Regions from separate parts of the Homo sapiens genome. Here region 1 is linked to region 2. The links come from fine-mapping of genetic effects on gene expression. A gene starts in region 2. The other region holds a variant in brackets. All regions are shown on one strand. Distances are from middle to middle. Region 1 overlaps ABCA4 (ATP binding cassette subfamily A member 4). Region 2 holds the start of GCLM (glutamate-cysteine ligase modifier subunit).

Region 1 (10,604 bases), 120 kb before region 2:
GCCAAGGTGGTGATTCTGGACGAACCCACCTCTGGGGTGGACCCTTACTCGAGACGCTCAATCTGGGATCTGCTCCTGAAGTATCGCTCAGGTAACAGCTGCTGCTCAGTCTCCTGGGCTGGGCTCTCACTGCAGCCCTAGCTGTGGTCCCCACTCTCTCACCTGCCATTTTGTAGCTGAGTACAGGAACCACAATGACTACACTCAGAAGGGGGTTTATCAGTGACTTGGTGAATCTAAGTTCCAGCTAAAGCCTCCTGAGGTTTTTACAAATATAAACAGAGAATCACTGATGATGCAACCTACTTCCCAAAATATTTTAGAAAATTCTCTTGACCTGCAGCCCTTCTGTCTGGAATAATGGATGCTACTCTAGGTGAATGTCTTCTCTGACCATGGGGACCCAGGTCACCTGCAAACATACCTAGAAGCTCCATAGCTGTCAGATGACCACTCAGGACCAGTGTGAGGGTGACCTGCTGGGCATTCAGTGCTCCAGAGGGTGGCCACAGATGGAAGTGGCTCCTCTGTCATGGCACCTCTCAGACAAGGGGCTCAGATCAGAAGAGACAGCAAGCAGAGCTGAGTGCCCATAGAGGTAACAGCACGGTTCAACCCCGTGGTCAAGCCAGAGCTTTCCCCCTTGCTCTACTCACACAGCGTTGCCCCGTGCCTTTCTCTGAGGGTTTGTCATCCTGAAATCCTCATTGCTATTTTCTTTCTTTCTTTTCTTTTTTTTTTTTTTTTTTTTTTGAGACAGAATCTCGCTCTGTCGCGCAGGCTGGAGTGCAGTGGCGCAATCTCCACTCACTGCAAGCTCCGCCTCCTGGGTTCGAGCCATTCTCCTGCCTCAGCCTCCTGAGTAGCTGGGACTACAGGTGCCCGCCACCACGCCTAGCTAATTGTTTTTGTATTTTTAGTAGAGACGGGGTTTCACCGTGTTAGCCAGGATGGTCTCGATCTCCCGACCTCAGGTGATCCTCCCGCCTTGTCCTCCCAAAGTGCTGGGATTACAGGCATGAGCCACCGTGCCCGGCCTGCTGTTTTCTGTTAATGACATCTCCAGTTAGTGAGAGTATGCACGTGTGTGTTCTTTATGAAGAGTATAAATCCAGAGCTTAATGATCCAGAAAATGTACATATGAAACTCCCTAGATGCTGACCATAATACATGAGCCCCTAATATAGAGATTTATTTGAATCAGATCCTATGCTGGATACAGAGACACTGTGTGTGGCAATGCTTTACAGTATGTAGGAAGCTATGAAATGTTAGTTATTATTGTCCTAATATGCTGGAATTTGCTGCTGAATTAGTTCCCTTGGGTTTTTTTTTTTAGTTAACTCCTGATTTTTGCAACTATATAGCCAGGAAATTGCTGTACACCCTTTACCAACAATGCCCAACCCAGGGCAGGCCTGGTGATTGCCCTGGCCCCTACCTTGCAGGCAGAACCATCATCATGTCCACTCACCACATGGACGAGGCCGACCTCCTTGGGGACCGCATTGCCATCATTGCCCAGGGAAGGCTCTACTGCTCAGGCACCCCACTCTTCCTGAAGAACTGCTTTGGCACAGGCTTGTACTTAACCTTGGTGCGCAAGATGAAAAACATCCAGAGCCAAAGGAAAGGCAGTGAGGTAGGTGTCTGCCCAGGGAAGGACCCTGGCCTGGGTGAGAAGGAGCACACAGCACGGGGCTGCCACTCCAGACATGGCTACTCACACAGGCTCTCGCCACCAGAATCAGTGTCTTTGTTCTGGGACCATTTGCAGAAGATTTCGATGAACACATTCTGAAGCCTCCTCCTACAGAGATGCTTTAGCCAAAATGAAACAACTAGCTTTAAATGGTCTGCAAGTATTACATGCCAGATTACACACCAGTTTGGTGCGGTTTGGTGCAACATAGAAGTGAGTGTCTTATTCTGTAAGGTTAGGCTGTTTTAAGAGCAATTGGTTGAGCTTCATTTCAACATTAATATTCCCTAATTAAACCTGAATTTCAGTGGTAAGTGAAAACTAAGAAGAGGCCTCCTTGGGTGCTATAACATAAAAATGATGAAGGCAAAAAGTACCAACCAGCAGAGACCACTTCAGCACATCAGGAGACCCAGTTTTATGTCTGTGCTGCGAAGTGAACAAACTGTGTCATCCTAGGCAAATTATTTAATTCCTCCTTTTTTTTAGTATTTTTTTCTTCTTCACATGGAACATGAAGCTAATGACCTCTGCTTCTATTTCTTAGGGATGTGAAGATAAGTGAGATAAAGTATTATAAATGTGCTCTGGGCTTCTTAAGAACAGGCATTGCTCACATTCAAATGGTCATGATTATGATATGGCAGCATTATTTATGCCTCTGGTTTAAGTGTCTGGCTGCCGCTGGGGTTTCCTATGTCCATCCACGGGGAGGGAGGCACAGAATGTCTCCCACAGGCAGAACCTACAGCTGCCACATAATTGATGACAAGCCAAAGGGACCCTTGGAGGTTCTGCTCCTCTCTGTGTGTGACTCACACACTCTCTAGGATAAAATCAAGCGACTACACCCTCAAAATGCTCAGATGAATTAACAGATTAAACAGTGAAGAAAAAAATGTGTTGACTACACTTGGCAGTGAGAAATAAATAAAGCGGGCGGTGACAGCAGCTGGCATCAGGGAGAGGCTGTCATGGAAGGGATGTGCATCTTGTCAGTCATCCCATCCATCTGTTGCAGGGGACCTGCAGCTGCTCGTCTAAGGGTTTCTCCACCACGTGTCCAGCCCACGTCGATGACCTAACTCCAGAACAAGTCCTGGATGGTAAGGACTGGACGGGCCATACTTGGGTTCCGTCTGGCAGCCATCTCCCAGTATTGCTGGGTGTGTCCTGTTGTGATGCATTTTAATGGGAGCAAAGAGAACACTGGGTACTTCTGCAGGTCACACAGTTGTTCTTTTGCTTTGAGCTTCTTTCTCCTCTTCCTTCTTCCTTCATTCCCAAAGGGATTTTAAAAGTCATGCACCTAAAGGCCCTCTCCCTTTAATGAGGAATACACTCTGTGCTCTTACCCTTAGTAAGCCATCATTCCTGGGGTCCCCCTGCCCTGGCTCCAGGCCACATTCCTTAGTGTCTGGGGAGAGCTTCTTCTACATGTGTGCCGTGGCGCCCTCTAGTGGAAGCATGGTGATGCACGGCTCTTCCAGTGAATTCGTGGAGTCAGAGATTGCACATGTGGATGGCAAGTCTGGAAATAGCATACACCCCTGTTATACTCCTGATTCTCCCCTCAGCTTCCCAATTTCCCAGTGATTCTCCCTTTAATTAGGATGCACTGAAGCTCTCAGGGGTGCCCCCATCTCCAAGGAGCTGCAGTGGAGAGGCTATCCCCTCTCTATGTGAGAGAATGTGTGAGAAGCGTATTCCCACACAGGAGCAAAACTAAACTTACGTACTGATGCAGGTTAATGAATGGGGAAAGTATCTGCTTATCAAAGAAAAGGCATATTTTTCTATTTAGCACAAACTTTTTCAAATGTTAAGAATTTACTAACTGAAATCTGGTGAAGCAAGAGAACCGGGCAATATTTGCGTTGTCTGATCATTACAACTGGAGGGAACATGCTCAGAGAGGCATCATCACTGTTCATGCACCTGCCCTCTCTTTACACTGAGAGACCCTGTGATGAACAGAAAACATCTTTTTAGGATGACATCTCTGGGTCTTTCTCCTAGCCTGCCTTGCTGTGGGTACCTATCTCCCTGCTCTCTGAACCTTGGTCAAGAAGTTTATATTTGTTTTAAATTGATACTAATATGTTAAGTTACTGTGATTTGCCAAAATCAGATTGGAAACAGGGCCTGCATGGCTGAATGATTCTTTTTTTTAAATTACTTTATTTCTAAATAAAGGTTTTCTTTGTATAGAATCGGGATGCTGTGAATGGTGGGAAATGCACTAAATAGTTATGCCCCAAATAAGAAAGGGAAAATCATTTGAATCCCCAGTTAGCTCCTTGAAAGTCTTTTCACTTAAACACACCCACATACCACACACACACTCACAGACCTCCCTCCCAGATGCCCAAAGCCCTGCTGACCTACAGAGCTACTTCTGGAAAGGCTGACACATGCCTAAGACACAATTCCTGGGAATCCAGCAGCTTTGGGTTCAATTTCCTTCCTAAAAGAACAATGAATATGACCCCTGGAGAGCTATTAGGGCAGAGCTGCTTCCTTAACGTAAAGGACTCTCCAGCCTCCGTATGAAGTCATCTCAGAGCTAAAGACAATCAAGTCCAACTTGCAGATTTGACATAAAGCAAGACTTCCAATCCGGCTAGGCAGAAGGATTTTGGTTGAAAACCATGAAATCCCTTCATATGGATCATTTTTTAAACAACAAAAAAAGAAAAGAACCTACTGGGTGTCCACAACTCTGAGAGCTGCTTTCTGAAGAGTCATGTTTTGAGTCCTGGAATCCCTCTCCCTTTGACCTGCCTCTCAAGACAATGTGCGAGAGAACTCTCTCTTCAAGTGCATGCAAGTGAGGTTTTCACAGTTAGATTTTTAATTTTAAAGTAATACACATTTGTACATAAAATTCAATTCTGACTGTATACATGTGTCAGATAAACAGTTGATACCTGACACTTGTTCACAGTCTATGATACGCACCGCATATCCTACCCTCTCCCCCAGCCTCTCTCCATGGCTTCTCAACCCCCCCTCTGCATTTCCTGTGACCTGAGGATTCAGTTTTGTTTGTGGAGGCAGGTGCAATCCCAAGAGAAACTGTGCAATCTTCTGAGAAGTTAGAGTAGGCATGTGTGTGTGATTTAGGGAAGGTACTTCTCACTCAGCTTGGTCACCGGTTCCAGGTTTGTGTCTTGGGCAAGTCCCCCATAGCTGGTGACAGACCAGAAAAATGAAAACAACTTTGACTTAGCCCTCAAGTTTTCAGTGAATGAGAATGAAAAACAACCATGAGTAAGAGATTTCTTACCGAGATGATGTAAAGGATAATAATAGCAGCCAGCACTCACCTATGTGCCAGGTATTTCTCTAACTGCTTTGTGTAGTTTGACTCATCCAGTCCTCAAAAACAACAATGAAGTGGATACCAGTATTTTCCCCTTTTCACAGATGAGGAAAGTCTAATGTGACCCACCCAACATAACATAGTTTGAGGGGACAGAGCATTTCGTTGAACAGAGGAGGAACTGGCACAGGAAAGTTGCATGACCCCCCCACCAAC[C/T]TCCGCCCCCAGGTTGCACAGCTAGCTAGTCGGGAGGACTTTGCTTCCGTTTCCCTCTGCCTCTCAATGATGATCTCAGGGCCAACTAAGCTAAAAGCAGACTTGATGGAGCATCAGTCCTCTGAAAGAGTCACTGCCGAGATACAAAATACCTCTTCTTCAAAGGGGAAGTGGAGAGAAGTAGGAAATCTGGGTAACCTCACAGTCTTCCAGTTTCTGGAAAACAGAGCTGGCATCAGTCTTTTTTCTTGTCCTAGGGGATGTAAATGAGCTGATGGATGTAGTTCTCCACCATGTTCCAGAGGCAAAGCTGGTGGAGTGCATTGGTCAAGAACTTATCTTCCTTCTTCCAAATAAGAACTTCAAGCACAGAGCATATGCCAGCCTTTTCAGAGAGCTGGAGGAGACGCTGGCTGACCTTGGTCTCAGCAGTTTTGGAATTTCTGACACTCCCCTGGAAGAGGTAAAGTAGAGATTCCAGCTGGTTTCTGTCAAGTGCCAGAAGTGGCGGTTCTTTGAAAAAGTCTAACATTAGAGCAAAGTTTTGTAAAAGCAAAAAGCCATCGTTCCCCACCCAAGCATAGCAACTATCTTTATTTTTGGCATAGTTCCCCCATCTCTGCATGCATACAAATTTTATGTACTTGTGGTTACTGTGTGCTTACGTTTTTGTATTTATAGAAGATGATGTTCTCAGATAGAGTCGTAATGGATTTTCTTCCCATTATGAAGCAATACCCAACAAAACAGAGCTTGGGTTAGATTTTTCTGAGAATAAGAATGACTAAACAAAATTCTCTCTTTTTTTCTTCTTGACAGATTTTTCTGAAGGTCACGGAGGATTCTGATTCAGGACCTCTGTTTGCGGGTATGGTGCTGGAGCCAGTGGCTTGTTCCCTTCCTTGCCTCCCTCCCAAGTTCCATCTCGAAAGTCTAAGGGGCTGGGCACAGTGGCTCATGCCTGTAATCCCAGCAATTTGGGAGGCCAAGGCAGATGGACCACCTGAGTTCGAGACCAGCCTGGCCAACATGGTGAAACCCCATCTGTACTAAAAATACAAAAATTAGCTAGGTGTGGTGGCGCGCACCTGTAATTCCAGCTACTCGGGAGGCTGAGGCAGGAGAATCACTTGAACCTGGGAGGCAGAGGTTGCAGTGAGCAGAGATTGTGCCACTGCACTGCAGCCTGAGCGACAAGAGCAAAATCCATCTCAAAAAAAAAAAAAAGTCTAAGGAAAAAGTCATGAAACAACAAAGCAGGCAAATACTCCTCCATAGTATCTGACTCCCCAGTAGTAGGCATTTTGCATCCTAGATGGCTTTGAGTGACAAAGGAATAACAGACTGAGTTAGGTCTAGATGGGGACACTTTGGATGAATGAGGATTCTTACGGAGGTCAGGTTGGTAGCTTCATCCCTCAGCTCCTCATGCTGTATCCCCAGTCTCTCGGCCTGCCATGTCATCATCCTCATCTCCTCCTGTCATCTCCACCAGGCCTCTGATCCATCTCTGTCTGCATGAGTGACAGCTGGCAGAGTCCTTAATGTTTATCAAATACAACTCAGACGTCAGTCTCCTGGCCCCTTTGAGATCAACATAAAATCATTTTGAACCCTTATTTAGTGGTCTATGGGCTTTGAAAACATGGGGACCAAAATTCCTGTGGATTCTAGAAGTCTCTCTTCTACATGTGTCAGCCTGGGCACCAACTAGCTCCTTCCATGAACTTTTATCAAACCCACAGCCACACAAAGCATGTGTGAGTGTAGCAGAGTTTACAGCAGAGGGTGGAGGGTGGGGAGATAGATGTGTGGAAGGGTTACCTGCCACACAAACAGAAACCACTTCTGATAGAACACGAGGTGTCCACCCACACTGTAAAATCCTCTCCTGGTACAGGCAAAGCTTTGCAGCGATTCTCCTTTGCTGCCCCTGGGCTCCTAACACCTCCTAAACCACCAGTTACCTCCTTCTTTCCAGTGTGGCATATTTCAGTGTTTTCCTGTTGGAGTGTTTCCTTTCTATGTGGATTCTGGAATCAGCTCTTAAGATAACTTGGTTTTCATCTTTCTTCATAATGATCCCAAACATCTATCTACTATGCCTAGAACTACCAATGGACACATATACCAGCCCAGATATGCTTCAGCCCATCCCAGTACATCGCATGGTGACCAAAAGATGTAGTCGTCCTGGCACAGTGGGTGTGGGGCAGGAAGCAGTCCTCTCCAGGGGACAGCAGCAATTCACCACAGAACCCAAGTTTCTTTCAAGCTCTGCTGACACAGAAATTGAATAATCTCAGCTCACCCAATGTCAAAGACTCATATTAACCAAGACCAGAATGAAAATATGCTAATTTATATCAGAAGCTTTGCTGGATTCAAGAGTTAGGGCCTTTTACCTGTGCAGAATATTCCTTCTTGATAAATAGGCCCTCTCAGGAGAATAAATTACACATCAGAGGACTGTTTAGTCAGCATAGGCATAGAACAGGATGTTCCAAAGATACAGTCAAGGGGAGTGGGTAAGAGTGTAGCCTCTGGAGTGAGGCCGACCAAATATCAAACCTGAGCTTCATAATTTGCAAACTAACTGGCTTTGGGTAAGTACATAGCCTCTTTGTACCTGTTTCCCCATCTGCAAAATGGAGATAATAATAGCATCTACCTGTAGCATTGTTGAGAGAATTAAGTGAGTTAATGCTTGCCGACTTATAACACAGTATACGATCACTGATTAAGACTTAGCAACTCTAAACTAAATGTTTACAAACCATCTCTTACCTCAAAGCACTTAACATCCATTGTCTTATTTGATTATCACTGTAATCTTATGAAGCAGGCAGGGCAGGGGTCTGCCCCATCTGGGGGGAACTGAGCTCACAGAGGTTGGAGGGTTTGCCTAAAGTCACCCAGGCCACTGGGTCTCACTCTCTGGTCTTAGCTCTGTAATCTAGGATGCTCAATGCCACACTCTCAGCCACTTTTCAGATGGCTAAGTACATTTGTTTTGAGTTAGCTCAGTCTCAGAGGATGACATTTTCTGATCTTGTCTCCAGTGTTTAAATGAACCTGTAGCTGTGCATTGGGGTCACACAATGCGTGGCATGGAGAGGGTCTGTGGCTGACTGCCACGGTTACTACGTGAAACCATCATTACAGCAGTTACTACTGTTACTGCCTGAGAACATCATTACAAGACTGAACGAAGGGATCAACATGGAAATGATAACAAAAAAACCAAAGTAACTGTTTTAAGGAAAGGCTAGCATCGGGAAGAAGAAGAGAGAAGAAGAGAAGAAGAAAAGGGCTCCCTGCTTCTAATGAGTAAAGGCAGCTCCCTAAGCTTCTGCAGCCCTTCATTATTTATTGGGTAACAGGAGGAAGGAGCAGGAGGTAATGATTGGGTCAGCTGCTTAAATGATCACGGGTTCATGTTGTTACTGACAGATTTCAATTATGCCTAATCATAAGAAACATTTGTGCAGCCTCCAACAAGGGTCAATGCCACTTCTGAAGGGGTGACTCATAGTCAGTAACTAGAAAGCAGCAGATAGCTAGGGACAAACTGGCGATTCTGAATAGGCCTGGAACCCTTAGCTCTGGCCAGGTCAGTGGGCTCCAGTCAGGATGGAGCCTTCAGGGAGAGATCAAAGCTCAGAGGTTTGAGATGATATCAGCCAGCAAAGAGGAGGGGCAGTAGGGATCCTCCCAGAGGGAGGGCCAGCCATAGAAGACATCAAATCTGAGCCCGGATCAGGAGAAGGAGCCTGCAGAACTGGGGCTCTGGCACCGAGAACCTGCAGAACTTCGCCCCTCTGAGTGCAGGTGCCAGGGCTGGGGCTGCCACCCAGCCTTCGCATCCCAGGCCTGGCACGTCATAGGTAAATGTAGTTGAAAGGATGACTGAGCTGATCCAATTCCCTTTACAACTGTCCTTGTCCTGGGGGACTTGAGGAGGGTTAAGAAAGCAGCTGGGGACCAACCAACAGTCCTCTAGGCTCTCCATGTCCAGCAATAGTTGTTCAGCAAATGAGCATTAATCAGTGACTATAAACTGTAGCTTCAACATAACCGACAACTTGCAATGGTTTCTAGAGCATGCTCCCATGTGTTATCTCATTTAAATTTCCAAACCAATCCTGTGAAATGTTCTTTTTTTTTTTCTTTTTTTTTTTTTTGAGATAGAGTTTTGCTCTGTCACCCAGGCTGGAATACAGCGGCTCGATCATAGCTCACTGCAGCCTTGACCTCCTGGGCCCAAGGGGTCCTCCCACCTCAGCCTCCCAAGTAGCTGGGACTACAGGCACACGCCACCGTGCCTGGCTAATTTCTTTTCTAGTTGTTTGTAGAGACAGGGTCTCCCTATGTTGTACAGGCTGATCTGAAACTCCTGGGGTCAATCAATCCTCCTGGCTTGGCCTCCCAAAGTGCTGGGATTACAGGCATGAGCCACCATGCCTTCATTTTACAGATAAGAAGTCTGAGAAAACTCAGATTTAGGCAGATTGAGTCACTTCCCCAAATTTATGTATCTTGTAAGAATCCATATTCAAACCTCAGTCCCCTAACTCTTAGTTCATTACTTTTTCTACCACTTCTCAGTATCCTCTAAGAATTCAGAAAGAACCACATCGACTCTGATTTTTCATTTGTTTAAGTACACAGGTAATAGGTGAATGTATTTTGTTGTTTAAAAATTCATATAATACACAAAAGGCTAAAGTCTCGCTTCCCACTTCCTCTCCCCTTTCTACCCAACTCTGCCTCCCCAGGGAGAGCTTCTGCTGACAGTCGGTGGACATTCTTTCAGAGTTTTACAATTATGTGTGTGTGTGTACATAAGATGTCAGTTTTTCTTTGTGTAGGATACATGAACATGAATTTTAAACATAAATGTGAGTGTATTACACATATTGACCAGCACCTTAGTTTTTTTGTTTGTTTGTTTGGTTTTCTTTGTGCTGTTTGAGAAGGAGTCTTGCTCTGTCACCCAGGCTGGAGTGCAGTCTTGCAATCTCGGCTTACGCAACCTCCACCTCCTGGGTTCAAGTGATTCTCCTGCCTCAGCCTCCCGAGTAGTTGGGATTACAGGTGCCTGCCACCATGCCTGGCTAATTTTTGTATTTTTGTAGAGAGGGGGTTTCACTATGTAGGTCAAGCTGGTCTCAAACTGCTGACCTCAAATGATCCATCCACCTCAGCCTCCCAAAGTGCTGAGATGACAGGCGTGAGCCTCCGTGCCCAGCCAGTTTTGTTTTTTTATTAACCAAGTTACGTATTTTAAACTTCTCCATGTCAATGCTTTTAGAGCTATTTTGTTCTCTTTAATGTTAATAGAGAATTTTAAGGCAATT
Region 2 (15,370 bases):
AAATTGTAGAGAGGAGGCCTCACTATGTTGCCCAGGCTGGTCTCCAACTCCTGGGCTCAAGTGATCCTCCTGCCTCGGCCTTCCAAAGTGCTCACTTACATGTATGAGTCACTGCACCTGGTCGTGATTTTCTTAAAAAAAAAAAAAAAAAAAAAAAAAAAAGACACTCATCCCCAAGTTACATTACTTCTCAATGATATCTGTACTAGTAGCACTCTTCATCACATGGTCAATCATAGAATTTTCAATGTGGGCAGGGCACGGTGGCTCACGCCTGTAATCCCAGCACTTTGGGAGGCCAAGGTGGGCGGATCACCTGAAGTCAGGAGTTCAAAACCAGCCTGGCCAACATGGTGAAACCCCATCTCTACTAAAGATACAAAAATTAGCCAGGCATGGTGGTGCATGCCTGTAGTCCTAGCTACTTGGGAGGCTGAGGCAAGAGAATCGCTCAAACTTGGGAGGTGGAGGTTGCAGTGAGCCGAGATCGCACCACTGTACTCTAGACCGAGCAACAGAGTGAGACTCTGTCTCAAAAAAAAAAGAAAGAATTTTCAATGTGATGTATACATTTAGACCCAAATATTGACTCTTTAAATATCTACTTGTATTTTTCATCACTATACAAATTTTAGTTACTGCCAACAACCTCTTCCATCAGCAGATGAGGAGTAGGAATTGTATCATTTTTAGTTAGCAGATGATGATGATGACACAGACAAACAGATGCAAATACAGCAGCCCTCCAGGCAATCTTACATAACAGTATTGGATATTTTGGATTCATATTATCAATGGAATGATTTCTATTGTACTTGAACATATGAGAATTTTAACAAATTTTCTTGCTCAACCCCAACCCTGATATTCCCACTGGGACATTCTCCCATGGCTCCCTATTGAGAAAAGAAACTATTTTGCTTCGTCTAAGTAAATCCATGGTAACCTGATTCCCTCCTTCCCACTAACTAGGGCAAAACAAAGGCACCTGAGCTCTGTCTTGATTCATATTCACAGCCTGCATTCAGTGTGGGTCATGTTCTCACTAACCTATGTCTAGGTGATTACTAGAGTTTTCTCACTGGTCTCCTAGCATTGAGTCATTCTCCACTGCAATTTTACATACCACTTGCTGATTTGTTATATTTGTACTCCTTTTTCATAATAACCACCAGAGTATAATTTTACATTTACTATAATTATATGATTAAAATCTTTCTCTACCACTAGACTGTAAATTACATAAGAACAGGAACAATGTGTTTGCTCACTATGAATTTGCAGTGCCTAGCTCAGTACCTTAAGTATTAGACACTGGAGAAATATCTACTGAGTAAATGAATAGCATTTTAAAATATAGGGGTGTGGAGTTTTTTGCCAATTTATTACTTTGAGTCAAGACTCTACCTTACTCAAGTTTAAGAGGTTTCCCAGTGCCTCTCAGACCAAACCCAAAAGAGTCTTCTTGATAATGGTCCTCTGTTGCAACACCCACGTTCCCTTCACCTTTAAGGGGTACCACTGCTCCAGGAAGGTGCCGCTGTATCCAGTCTTCAGAACAAACTGTGGTAATTTCCACTCCTCTGCACTCGTTCATGTTCTATTCCAAACCATGGCTCTCTTCCTCCAAATCCTTAAGATGGTAACAGGTCATGACAGCTGTATTATTTTCAAGGGATTTAGGTTTCAGAAAAATCCTTTTAAAAATAGAACCTTCAGCTGGGTGTGGTGGCTCATGCCTATAATCCTAGCACTTTGGGAGGCTGAAGCGGGCGGATCACTTGAGGTCAGCTGTTCAAAACCAACCTGGCCAACATGGTGAAACCCCGTCTCTATTAAAAATACAAAAAAATTAGTCAGGCGTGGTGGTGCATGCCTGTAGTCCCAGCTACTCGGGAGGCTGAGGCAGGAGAATTGCTTGAACCCAGGATGCGGAGGTTGCAGTGAGCCGAGATTGCACCACTGTATTCCAGCCTGGGCGACACAGTGAGACTCTGTCTCAGAAAAAAAAAAAAAAAAAAAAAAGAACCTTCACCTCTAGATGGGGCAGGATCCATTTAGTGGCTTCTGAATATGGCAACATAAATGTAGCAGTTACACTCATTCCAGGAGTTAAAATTTGAGAATTTAAATCCATTTTACCTTATTAAGAATAAAATGCACCAGGTGGTCTCTTAATAAAGTAAAACTAATTTTAATTCATTTTGTTTGTCTTGATAAAGCAAAAAGACTATGAATAAAAATGTGATCACTTCTACAGCAATTAATTAATCTGTGAGACTTTTTTTTGCTGCCTGCTTTGTTCTAAACACTTAAAGCTTGTGAGCTCCTGTTGGGCTTCCAACAGTACATTATAATTTCAAAAGCGTTCTGTGATCAAATACATTGGGGAAACTGATGCAGGGTATTACAGGACACACAAGGAGACTGGTTTGTCTTGTTTTTATTTTTTTGAGACAGGGTCTTTCTCTGTCCCCCAGGATGGAGTGCAGTGACACAATCACAGCTCACTACAACCTCTGCCTCACAGGCTCAAGTGATCCTCCCACCTCAGCCTCCCAAATAACTGGGATGACAGACACGTGCCACAACATTTGGCTAATGTTTAAATTTTTTGTAGAGATGGGGTCTCTCTTATCGCCCAGGCTGGTTTTGAACTCCTGGACTCGAGCGATCCTCACACCTCAGCCTCCCCAAAATGCTGAGGTTACAGGTGTGAGCCATGGTGCCTGGCCTGGAAGAGTGGTTTTTTAAAGAAAAACATAAACAGTTGAATATCAGATCCTATAAATGTCAAGCATGAAAAAAAAAAGCAGTCAGTGTTAGTGACACTGTATTTATACAGCACTTGTAGAAGTGCTTTAAAGCACCTAAAAACAAAAATATATTCCCAAAGATAGAAATGTTATCAATATTATTTCTCTTTTCTAGACAGGAGAAAAATAACTTACTAAAAGTGACTACATAATCAATTTCTGATTTACATTCCCTGGTTTTTCCCCCAAAATAAGTTTAGAAGATTAAATTTCCCTCCCTAAGAACTGCGGTGTTATGGCAAGGGTATCATTAAGTACAATATGTAGTAAATTTAAGCCGTACAGGCATTAAAAACATATAAATCATGTATAAGCACATTCAAGAATTTAAATTATCTATAGTATGGAAGAGTAAAGAATTTGAAGTTGAAGGATCTAGGTTTTGATCGTGGCCACAATACTAATTACTAACTGAGATTTTCAACAAGTTACTTAACTGAGTTGCTGCGAAGAGCAAATGAGTTTACATATGCAAATCTTAAAAACATAACACGATGCCTGCCGTGAATTCATGTTATAAATTTACCAATATTGTGAGAACTGCATTGTAATGGGGAAACAGTAGGGGCATTAATAATAGGAGCTCTCACTTACTGGACATTTACTAAGGGCTTTTCATGCCTCTTCATCATTAACTCCTCACACCTGCCCAATGTGGTAAGTATTCTATTTGGTGGAACCATGGGACTTTCCATTTCTGTCGGTTAAAAATGGTCAATTATCACCGGACGTGGTGGCTCAGGCCTGTAATCCCAGCACTTTGGGAGGCCGAGGTGGGCGGATCATGAGGTCAGGAGATCGAGACCATCCTGGCTAACACTGTGAAACCCCGTCTCTACTAAAAATACAAAAAAAATTAGCCAGGCGTGGTGGCAGGCGCCTGTAGTCCCAGCTACTCTGGAGACTGAGGCAGGAGAATGGCATGAACCTGGGAGGTGGAGCTTGCAGTGAGCCAAGATCGCGCCACTGCACTCCAGCCTAGGCGACAGAGCAAGACTCTGTCTCAAAAAAAACAAACAAAAAAAAGGTCAATTATGAGCAATTTCATATGGTTCAAACTATCCTCTTGCTGGTTTAGAGAAACTGAAATACAGAGAGACTTGGGTAAGTAAGATAAAAGAGCCAGTGCCTGGTAAAAGTAAGGTTGGTAAGCCAATACCGGTTGATGTCAGCACCAACATTCTTGGCCAATATGTTATATAAGTTCCCAGCAAAGAGGCAAGTCTAATAGTTTAGGAGATGTAAACTCTAAGCTTTAATCAAGTATTGATTGCATGCTATCAGATAATATACAAACAATCAAGAAATGATGCCACAGCAAATTCAGCATATGAATCAAATGTACACATTAATTAAAGCAGCACAAGCGAAGATGGCTGAATAGGAACAGCTCAGGTCTGTAGCTCACAGCATGATCGACACCGAAGACAGGTGATTTCTGCATTTCCAACTGAGGTACCTGGTTCATCTCATTGGGACTGGTTGGACAGTGGGTGCAGCCCAAGGACGGCGAGCCAAAGCAGGGCGGGGTATCACCTCAACCAGGAAGCACAAGGGGTCAGTGGATTTTCCTTTCCTAGCCAAGGGAAGCTGTGACAGACTGTACTGGGAAAATTGGGACACTCCCATCTTAATGATGCACTTTTCCAATGGTCTTAGCAAATGGCACACCAGGAGATTATATCCCGCTCCTGGCTCAGCAGGTCCCACGCCCACAGAGCCTTGCTCACTGCTAGTGCCGCAGCTCCCAGATCTAACTGAGTGAAAGCCGGCAGCCTGGCTGCAGGGTGTTGCAGGGGCGGGGGGCGGTCTGCCATTGCTGAGGCTTGAGTAGGTAAACAAAGTGGCCTGGAAGCTCCAACTGGGTGGAGCCCACCACAGCTCAAGGAGGCCTGCCTGCCTCTGTAGACTCCACCTCTGGGAGCAAGGCATAGCTGAACAAAAGGCAGCAGAAACTTCTGCAGACTTAAACGTCCCTGTCTGACAGCTCTGAAGAGAACAGTGGTTCTCCCAACATGGTGTTTGAGCTCTGAGAATGGACGGACTGCCTCCTTAAGTGGGTCTGTGACCCCCATGTAGCCTAACTGGGAGACACCTCCCAGTGGGGACTGATTGACACCTCATACAGCCAGGCACCCCTCTGAGACGAAGCTTCCAGAGGAAGGATCAGGCAGCAATATTTGCTGTTCTGCAATATTTGCTTTTCTGCAGCCTCTGCTGGTGATACCCAGGCAAACAGGGTCTGCAGTGGACCTCCAGCAAACTCCAACAGACCTGCAGCTGAGGGACCTGACTCTTAGAAGGAAAACTAACGAACAGAAAGGGATAGCATCAATATCAACAAAAAGGACATCTATACCAAAACCCAATCTGTAGGTCGCCAGCATCAAAGACCAAAGGTAGATAAAACTACAAAGATGGGGAGAAACCAGAACAGAAAAGCTGAGAATTCTAAAAACCAGAGTGCCTCTTCTCCTCCAAAGGATTGCAGCTCCTCGCCAGCAATGGAACAAAGCTGGATGGAGAACAACTTTGATGAGTTGACAGAAATAGGCTTCAGAAGGTCGGTAATAACAAACTTCTCCGAGCTAAAGGAGGATGTTCAAACCCATTGCAAGGAAGCTAAAAACCTTAAAAAAAGATTAGATGAATGCCTAACTAGAATAAACAGTGTACAGAAGCACTTAAATGACTTGATGGAGCTGAAAACCATGGCACAAGAACTACCTGATGCATGCACAAGCTTCAGTAGCTGATTTGATCAACTGGAAGAAAGGGTATTAGTGATTGAAGATCAAATTAATGAAATGAAGCGAGAAGAGAAGTTTAGAGAAAAAAGAGTAAAAAGAAACTAACAAAGCCTCCAAGAAATATGGGACTATGTGAAAAGACCAAATCTACGTCTACGTCTGACTGGTGTACCTGAAAGTGACGGGGAGAATGGAACCAAGTTGGAAAACACTCTGCAGGATATTATCCAGGAGAACTTCCCCAACCTAGCAAGGCAGGCCAACATTCAAATTCAGGAAATACAGAGAACACCACAAAGATACTCCTCGAGAAGAGCAACCCCAAGACACATAATTGTTAGATTCACCAAGGTTGAAATGAAGGAAAAAATCTTAAGCGCAGCCAAGAGAGAAAGGTTGGGTTACCCACAAAGGGAAGCCCATCAGACTAACAACAGATCTCTTGGCAGAAACTCTACAAGCCAGAAGAGAGTGGGGGCCAATATTCAACATTCTCAAAAAAAAGAATTTTCAACCCAGAATTTCATATCCAGCCAAACTAAGCTTCATAAGTGAAGGAGAAATAAAATACTTTACAGACAAGCAAATGCTGAGAGATTCTGTCACCCCCAGGCCTACCTTACAAGAGCTCCTGAAGGAAGCACTAAACATGGAAAGGAACCATCAGTACCAGCCACTGCAAAAACATGCCAAATTGTAAAGACTATCGATGCTAGGAAGAAACTGCATCAACTAACGGGCAAAATAACCAGCTAACATCATAATGACAGGATCAAATTCACACATAACAATATTAACCTTAAATGTGAATGGGCTAAACGCCCCAATTAAAAGACAAAGACTGGCAAATTGGATAAAGAGTTAAGACCCATCAGTGTGCTGTAGTCAGGAAACCCATCTCATGCACAGACACACATAAGCTCAAAATAAAGGGATGGAGGAAGATCTACCAAGCAAATGGAAAGCAAAAAAAAGCAGGGGTTGCAATCCTAGTCTCTGATAAAACAGACTTTAAACCAACAAAGATCAAAAGAGACAAAGAAGGCCATTACATAGTGGTAAAGGGATCAATTCAACAAGAAGAGCTAACTATTCTAAATATATATGCACCCAATACAGGAGCGCCAATACAAAGAGACTTAGACTCCCACACAATAACAATGGGAGACTTTAACACCCGACTGTCAATATTGGATCAACGAGACAAAAAATTAACAAGGATATCCAGGAATTGAACTCAGCTCTGGACCAAGTGGACCTAATAGACATCTACAGGACTCTCCACCCCAAATCAACAGAATATACATTCTTCTCAGCACATCACACTTATTCTTAAACTGACGACGTAATTGGAAGTAAAACACTCCTCAGCAAATGTAAAAGAACAGAAATCACAACAAACTCTATCTCAGACCACAGTGCAATCAAATTAGAACTCAGGATTAAGAAACTCACTCAAAACTGCACAACTACATGGAAACTGAACAACCTGCTCCGAATGACTACTGGGTAAGTGAGGAAATGAAGGCAGAAATAAAGTTGTTCTTTGAAACCAATGAGAACAAAGACACAATGTACCAGAATCTCTGGGACACATTTAAAGCAGCGTGTAGAGGGAAATTTATAGCACTAAATGCCCACAAGAGAAAGCAGGAAAGATCTAAAATTGATGCCCTAACATCACAATTAAAAGAACTAGAAAAACAAGAGCAAACAAATTCAAAAGACAGCAGAAGACAAGAAATAACACAGATCAGAGCAGGACTGAAGGAGATAGAGACACAAAAAACTCTTCAAAAAGTCAATGAATCCAGGAGCCGGTTTTCTGAAAAGATCAACAAAATAGACTACTAGCAAGACTAATAAAGAAGAAAAGAGAGAAGAATAAAATAGATGCAATAAAAAATGATAAAGGGGATATCACCACTGATCCCACAGAAAATACAAACTACCATCAGAGAATACTATAAACACCTGAATAGACCAATAACAGGTTCTGAAATTGAGGCAATAATTAATAGCCTACCAACCAAAAAAAGTCCAGGACCAGACAGATTCACAGCCAAATTCTACCAGAGGTACAAAGAGGAGCTGGTACCATTCCTTCTGAAACTATTCCAATCAATAGAAAAAGAGGGAATCCTTCCTAACTCATTTTATGAAGCCAGCATCATCCTAATACCAAAGCCTGGCAAAGACACACACAAAAAAGAGAATTTTATACCAATATCCCTGATGAACATCAATGTGAAAATCCTCAATAAAATACTGGCAAACTGAATCCAGTAGCACATCAAAAAGCTTATCCACCACGATCAAGTTGGCTTCATCCCTGGGATGCAAGGCTGGTTCAACATACGCAAATCAATAAAAGTAATCCATCACATAAACAGAACGAAAGACAAAAACCACATGATTATCTCAATAGATGCAGAAAAGGCCTTTGACAAAATTCAACAGCCCTTCATGCTAAAAACTCTCAATAAACTCGGTATTCGTGGAATGTATCTCAAAATAATAAGAGCTATTTATGACAAACCCACAGCCAATATCATACTGAATGGGCAAAAACTGGAAGCATTCCCTTTGAAAACTGGCACAAGACAGGGATGCCCTCTCTCAACACTCCTATTCCACATAGTGTTGGAAGTTCTGGCCAGGGCAATCAGGCAAGAGAAAGAAATAAAGGGTATTCAGATAGGAAAAGAGGAAGTCAAATTGTCCCTGTTTGCAGATGACATGATTGTATATTTAGAAAACCCCATCATCTCAGCCCAAAATCTCCTTAAGCTGATAAGCAACTTCAGCAAAGTCTCAGGATACAAATTCAATGTGCAAAAATCACAAGCATTCCTCTACACCAATAACAGACAAACAGAGAGCCAAATCATGAGAGAACTGCCATTCACAATTGCTTTGAAAAGAATAAAATACCTAGGAATCCATCTTACAAGGGATGAGACGGACCTCTTCAAGGAGAACTACAAACCACTGCTCAACAAAATAAAAGAGGACACAAACAAACGGAAGAACATTCCATGCTCATGGATAGGAAGAAACAATAGTGTGAAAATGGCCATACTGCCCAAGGTAATTTATAGATTCAATGCCATCCCCATCAAGCTACCAATGACTTTCTTCACAGAATGGGAAAAAACTACTTTAAAGTTCATATGGAACCAAAAAAGAGCCTGCATTGCCAAGACAATCCTAAGCAAAAAGAACAAAGCTGGAGGCATCATGCTACCTGACTTCAAACCATACTACAAGGCTACAGTAACCAAAACAGCATGGTACAAAAGAGAGATACAGACCAATGGAACAGAATAGAGGCCTCAGAAATAACACCACACATCTACAACCATCTGATCTTTGACAAACCTGACAAAAACAAGAAATGGGGAAAGGATTCCCTATTTAATAAATGGTGCTGGGGAAATTGGCTAGCCATATGTAGAAAGCTGAAACTGGATCCCTTCCTTACACCTTATACAAAAATTAATTCAAGATGGATTAAAGACTTAAATGTTATACCTAAAACCATAAAAACCCTAGAAGAAAACCTAGGAAATACCACTCAGGACATAGGCATGGGCAAGGACTTCATGACTAAAACACCAAAAGCAATGGCAACAAAAGCCAAAATAGACAAATGGGATCTAATTAAACTAAAGAGCTTCTGCACAGCAAAAGAAACTACCATCAGAGTGAACAGGCAACCTACAGAATGGGAGAAAATTTTTGCAATCTACCCATCTGACAAAGGGCTAATATCCAGAATCTACAAAGAACTTAAATTTACAAGAAAAAATCAAACAACCCCATCAAAAAGTGGGCAAAGTATATGAACAGACACTTTTCAAAAGAAGACATTTATGCAGCCAACAGACACATGAAAAAATGCTTATCATCACTGGTCATCAGAGAAATGCAAATCAAAACCATAATGAGATACCATCTCACACCAGTTAGAATGGCAATCATTAAAAAGTCAGGAAACAACAGGTGCTGGAGAGGATGTGGAGAACTAGGAACACTTTTACACTGTCAGTGGTAGTGTAAACTAGTTCAACATTGTGGAAGACAGTGTGGTGACTCCTCAAGGGCCTAGAACTAGAAATACCATTTGACCTAGCGATCTCATTACTGGGTATATACCCAAAGGATTATAAATCATGCTACTATAAAGACACATGCACAGGTATGTTTATTTTGGCACTATTCACAATAGCAAAGACTTGGAACCAACCCAAATGTCCATCAATGATAGACTGGATTAAGAAAATGTGGCACATACACACCATGGAATACTATGCAGCCATCAAAAAGGATGAGTTCATGTCCTTTGTAGGGAATGGATGAAGCTGGAAACCATCATTCTGAGCAAATTGTCGCAAGGACAGAAAACCAAACGCTGCATGTTCTCACTCATAGGTGGGAATTGAACCATGAGAACACTTGGACACAGGGTGGGAAACATCACACACTGGGGCCTGTCATGGGGTGGGGGGTTGGCGGAGGGATAGCATTAGGAGAAATACCTAATGTAAATAACGAATTAATGGGTGCAGCAAACCAACATGGCACTTGTATACATATGTAACAAACCTGCACATTGTGCACATGTACCCTAGAACTTAAAGTATTATAAAACAAAAAGTATAGACAAATCTTATTCAATCTTGAGTTCAGAAGATAGTTATATCGGGTTTCATTATAGTATTCTTGCTATTTTTGTATATGTTGGAATTATTTACAACAAATGTTAATTGTATGTTACAGTGCATCAAAATGTGTTTAAGTAGTGGTGGTGCTTGTGGGTAGCTCTTTCACTATAATAAAAAATCAATATCCAAAAAAAAAAAAAAAAAGCAGCGCAAGCTCGTTCAATGAACTCTTACCATCATTCATTCAGCCAACAAATATTTACTCAACATCAGGCTCAATTTCTAACTTCCTAGAAAGATCTTTTTTCCCATCCCTCCCCTAATTCTTACCATTTTACCAACTGGTTCATCTCTCTTTTCAATAGCTATATTGTCCCCGCTTATAATGAGAATCTCATTTTGCCTTTAATAATCTGATTCACCTCAACGAATGTGAAAGATTGTTGAGGAAAGCTCAATACATGTTCAATTTGATGTTTATACCGAGTCCACCACCACACGTGAAATTTAATAGGGGTAAATAATCTCGACCACCTCTAAAGGGGTGGGTGATAAAAGCTTTCTGTGATCTCACCGGCTCAAGTGTCCTCTTTAATCTGAATTCATCTGGAGAATAACTGCCCTATGATGTTCTTATAAAATTACTTGTTTCCTGTGCTTAGAACTTGTCTCTGGGTAGAGTGTACGCGTCTCAAGGGCAAAGACTCAGTCTTGTTCGTTGACTTCACACACTGCCAGCAAATAATGTGAATCAATAGACCTTTAACGGATGAAGAAAAATTAGCAGTTTGGGAGAAGGTCCTTGAAGGTAGCAAAGCGAAAAGAAGAAGGGGGCGCTTGCGCATAAACAGCTGCTTCTGAGAACGAAAACTACGTAGCATTTCCGAGTCCCGGTGGCCGCTCAGGCTGCCCTTTAAAGAGACGTGTAGGAAGCCCACCCTGGGGCGGCCGTGGGCGGAGCCGCGACCTGAACGCCGGGAGACCTCACCAGGCGGAGGCGGTGTCTACCTCACCAGGCGGAGGCGGTGTCTGCCTCGCGCTGTCCTCTGACCGCCAGGGGGAGCCCTGCCGCGCGCTGCGCTCCGGGCCGCGCCGCCACGCTCTCTCGACCCGCGCGCCCGCCGCGCACCACCCGTCGCCACGCCCGCCGCAGGCCAAGGGCCAGTCACTTGCGGGCCGGCGTCCCGCAGCCCATTCGCGCCCCGCCCCTGCCCCGCCGCGGGATGAGTAACGGTTACGAAGCACTTTCTCGGCTACGATTTCTGCTTAGTCATTGTCTTCCAGGAAACAGCTCCCTCAGTTTGGAATCAGCTCTCCCGCTGCGGCCGCAGTAGCCGGAGCCGGAGCCGCAGCCACCGGTGCCTTCCTTTCCCGCCGCCGCCCAGCCGCCGTCCGGCCTCCCTCGGGCCCGAGCGCAGACCAGGCTCCAGCCGCGCGGCGCCGGCAGCCTCGCGCTCCCTCTCGGGTCTCTCTCGGGCCTCGGGCACCGCGTCCTGTGGGGCGGCCGCCTGCCTGCCCGCCCGCCCGCAGCCCCTTCGCTGCGCGGCCCCTGGGCGGCCGCTGCCATGGGCACCGACAGCCGCGCGGCCAAGGCGCTCCTGGCGCGGGCCCGCACCCTGCACCTGCAGACGGGGAACCTGCTGAACTGGGGCCGCCTGCGGAAGAAGTGCCCGTCCACGCACAGCGAGGAGGTGAGCGTGGCGACACTCGCCGCGGGGCTCCCGGGGCAGGCCTCGGGCGGGGCCGGGCGGTTCCGGCAAGGGAGAAGCGCCCGCGGGCGAGGGAGGGTGGCAGGGCCTCGCGCGCACCTGGGCTCCGCCCGCGGTCAGATGCTGAGGCCAGTGTCGACGCGACCTTGGGTCCAAACCCGCTGCCGAGGGCAACGCGTCTAAAAAACTTAGCCGGTGCAGCTGCGCACTGAGTGACACCTCTCTCGGTGCTTAAGGCTGGTAGCAAAACTCTCAAACATCCTGGGTCCCTCTTCCTGGCACGGAGGTCACAGAGGGCCAGGACGTCGCTCCGTCTCTCTCCACATCTCTCGCTTCCTTCCCCCACCCTGTCCAGGTAAAGGAATATTTTCGGAGATTATCCTTTGGTGCATTCAGATGAAGTAGTATTCATAGTACACCTAACTTTTAGAATGTTGACATTAGACTCTCTATTGCAGTGAGGCAAATGAGTAAGCACTCAATTTTGGCTTTGGAATACCCTAAATACCCTGACTTTAGTCATTACACATTTTATGCACTTATCTGTGCGTCTATGTATGCTTTATCAGTACACATTCTATGCATGTAACAATATCATTGTACATTCTATGCATGTAACAGAATATCACATGTGCCCCATAAATATGTACAAATATAATCTATCAATTCAAAAATTAAAGTTTTGTAAAAACTGGAAAATAAAAAGACTAGTCACTAGTTGGAGGTGACAGAGATTAATCTGGAATTACAAACTTGTTACCTATTTGTTGGCCATTTCTGAGCGGATAGTCATCCACTGCACATTGTGCATATTGGTGGTATGGGACAATTTTAGTATTTAAAAAATAACAAAATCTTTAGATTTAGGAGCTATATGACTTTGGAAAATTACTTTAAAGTTGGATAATAACACCTTCCTCATCAGGTTGTTGTGAGAATTAAGAGGTAATATATGAAAACGCTCACCATGCAGGCATCTATCTCCCTGTCATCTGGTTCCATCAGAAAGATAAATCTTAATTAAGAGAAAAACCTTCCTAAACTATGTGTGTTTAGAAAAACCTTCCTAAATCAGCTGTGTTCCTAAGTGGTTTCTGCTCTCTTCTATGAGATGTTGGTAACAGACCATGCAGCAGCACACGGCATCCCTCTGAGTTAAGTGCTGGACCTGTGCCCAGGCCTGTTGTTGGGGTCAGTGCCCATCAAGAGATGAGAACTCTTGCTTGTAACTTTAGTAGGAATCTGAGTCTGTACCATATTCTGTGTTCACGTTCCAGCTCAGTGTGTATGTTTTGTTTTATTTAAACCACCTACTTTGGCTGTTTCTCCCACAGATAAATATTTCTGTATTCGGTACATAGACTCTTAATTTCTTCCAGTACTGTTGGTGGTAGTTCAATACAGAATTTTGCACGTATATTGATATTATTGGGTGAAATTTTACCTATCTCACAATAGCATACTCTAAAGTAGTGACTCAAAAGAGTTTCTGACTGCAAACACAGTAAGAAGTACATTTTACTTTGCAATCCAGTTAATAGTTGTATAATCAGTATATCTGAAACAGGTTTCACAAAAAGATATTAGCCCTTATACCGTATATTCTGATTTTTTCTTTTATTTTAATTTTTAAAATGTTGATTTCTTGATGCTCAGAGTCACACACCACAGTTTGTAAAACATTGTTCAAAGGACTAATTCTGGTTTCTAGTGTTTTATTTAGGGTGCTTCATAACAGTAGGATAAAACTAAAGAAACTAGAAAACATTTCAGGAAAACTTGAAGGAATGGCATCATACTGTAGGGAAACTATGACTGCTTGGTAAGAGCAAAAGGGGAGGCACATTTTGTTTCTATGTAAAAGAACTTTGTAACACCCAGAGCTCCAAATTGGGATGTACTACTTGGAACAGTTCCGCTTCACTGAAGAAATTAAGTAAACTGAACAAATCACTTATTTTTGAGAAAATGTACGTGTTGGGTCAAGAGTTCAGTTAAATTTCTTACAAGGTCTCTTCTAGTTCTAATTTTTTAAAAAATGTTATGACCTCTGCCCAGATTTTTTGTCTCACTGGAATTTTATGAAATCAAATAGTTTGTAAGTGGACCATTATAGGACTGTTTTGCCCAGTTCTTTGTTGTAAGGGTGTTTGACCGGTTGAATCATGGTATTTAAAAAATTCTTATACAACTCCAGATCTAATGGTAGGCTAAGTTGTGGTGATGCTTATACTCAGTGATATTGGGTGTGTATTATAAGAATGAAGAGAGCGGAGAACAAACATAAACATTAATGTTAATGACAAACATTAACCCAAGTACAAGGTTAATGTTTAGTCAATATAGCAAACATGTAATTTACAAGATTAAAAATAATTAGGCTTGTGATAAAGTCAATGAATTTCCTACGTAATTGTAACATTAGACTGTTTTATTATTTGTCCTGACATTTTGCAGAATCCAAGATTAATTAAAGAAATGGTTTCAAGAAGAGGGTGAATACTATAAAAATAGACTTACCTTCCTGAATTGAGGAATTCATCAGGAAAGCCTCAAGTGTGCAAATGAGCCATCCTTCCAGAGGGAAATTTCTTAGAATTATCCCACGATTTGAGCCAAAGCACTTCCGATAGAATTTTTAACCTCTAGTTGGTTCTGCTCCTTCCATTTTTACTAATTTTTAAGAAAATACTATGACTTATAATTGTATCTGGAATGATTATCAACTCCTTTTCATCCACTGACTTAAATTTGATTATAAATATGCTTTACATAAAGATCTAGACCTTATAATTTGAATTCAAGTGAATTGTTGTGACTAGCATGTAAATTATTATTATGGATTGTAAATCTTAACATAGGTAGTTCTGTGCCCTTAAATTGATAAACCAGTTATCTCTTGTAATCATGTGTACTAAGATATACGTAGTAAAGTGATTGTATCAGTTTTTATCATAAGCAGTCATAGTTCAGATAGTTCAGAAGTTTAGTGTCTGCTGTTTCTATTAGGAAAGTGCTTTTGCAATTCAGGGGCTTGCCTCTAGTTACTCATTTGTGTTTTCATTGATTGCCCACAGAAGAATGCAAAACACTGTGTCCTTGGTTATCTAATAAGGCAGTGATTTCAGATTGCCAGGTTTGGCCCATTAGTGGTCATAAATCAGTTCAGTGAGTCATGGACCAGTATATTTTTTCTAATTAATATATTGGAAGCCATTAGAGTGCCTGGCATGTTGTGAGCATAAATACCGCTTTATGACTGTTTTGTTCCATTATATGTATATAGGTCTTTGCTCACTATGTGAATGTATGTCTTACTTTGGACTACTATCAAATAAGTCTGAAATACACTTTAATAAAGTATGTTTGAATTAATTTACAACATACTATAATATTTGTATAAATTTTTTTTTGTTTATCTAAGAAAA

The links. PIP is the estimated chance that this variant, and not a neighbour inherited with it, causes the effect.
Region 1: its variant is fine-mapped to the expression of GCLM in whole blood (TOPMed, PIP above 0.99).

What each region holds. Positions count from the first base shown.
Region 1 is chr1:94,032,248-94,042,851 of GRCh38, reverse strand. ABCA4 (ATP binding cassette subfamily A member 4) reads left to right here. Exons shown (of 50, transcript NM_000350.3): 22 at 1-91; 23 at 1,450-1,643; 24 at 2,725-2,809; 25 at 5,502-5,707; 26 at 6,064-6,112. Among named protein-coding and RNA genes, the nearest start is that of ABCA4, 84 kb to the left of the region's middle. RefSeq lists an enhancer at 5,021-6,220. The variant C/T (reference allele first, on the strand shown) is at 5,245.
Region 2 is chr1:93,905,592-93,920,961 of GRCh38, reverse strand. GCLM (glutamate-cysteine ligase modifier subunit) reads left to right here and starts at 11,532. Exons shown (of 7, transcript NM_002061.4): 1 at 11,532-11,924. The coding sequence starts at 11,799. LOC124904221 (a long non-coding RNA gene) reads right to left here and starts at 11,370. Exons shown (of 2, transcript XR_007066230.1): 1 at 10,808-11,370; 2 at 1,364-1,633. RefSeq lists an enhancer at 11,009-11,168 and silencers at 11,209-11,448, 11,659-12,018, 12,069-12,118.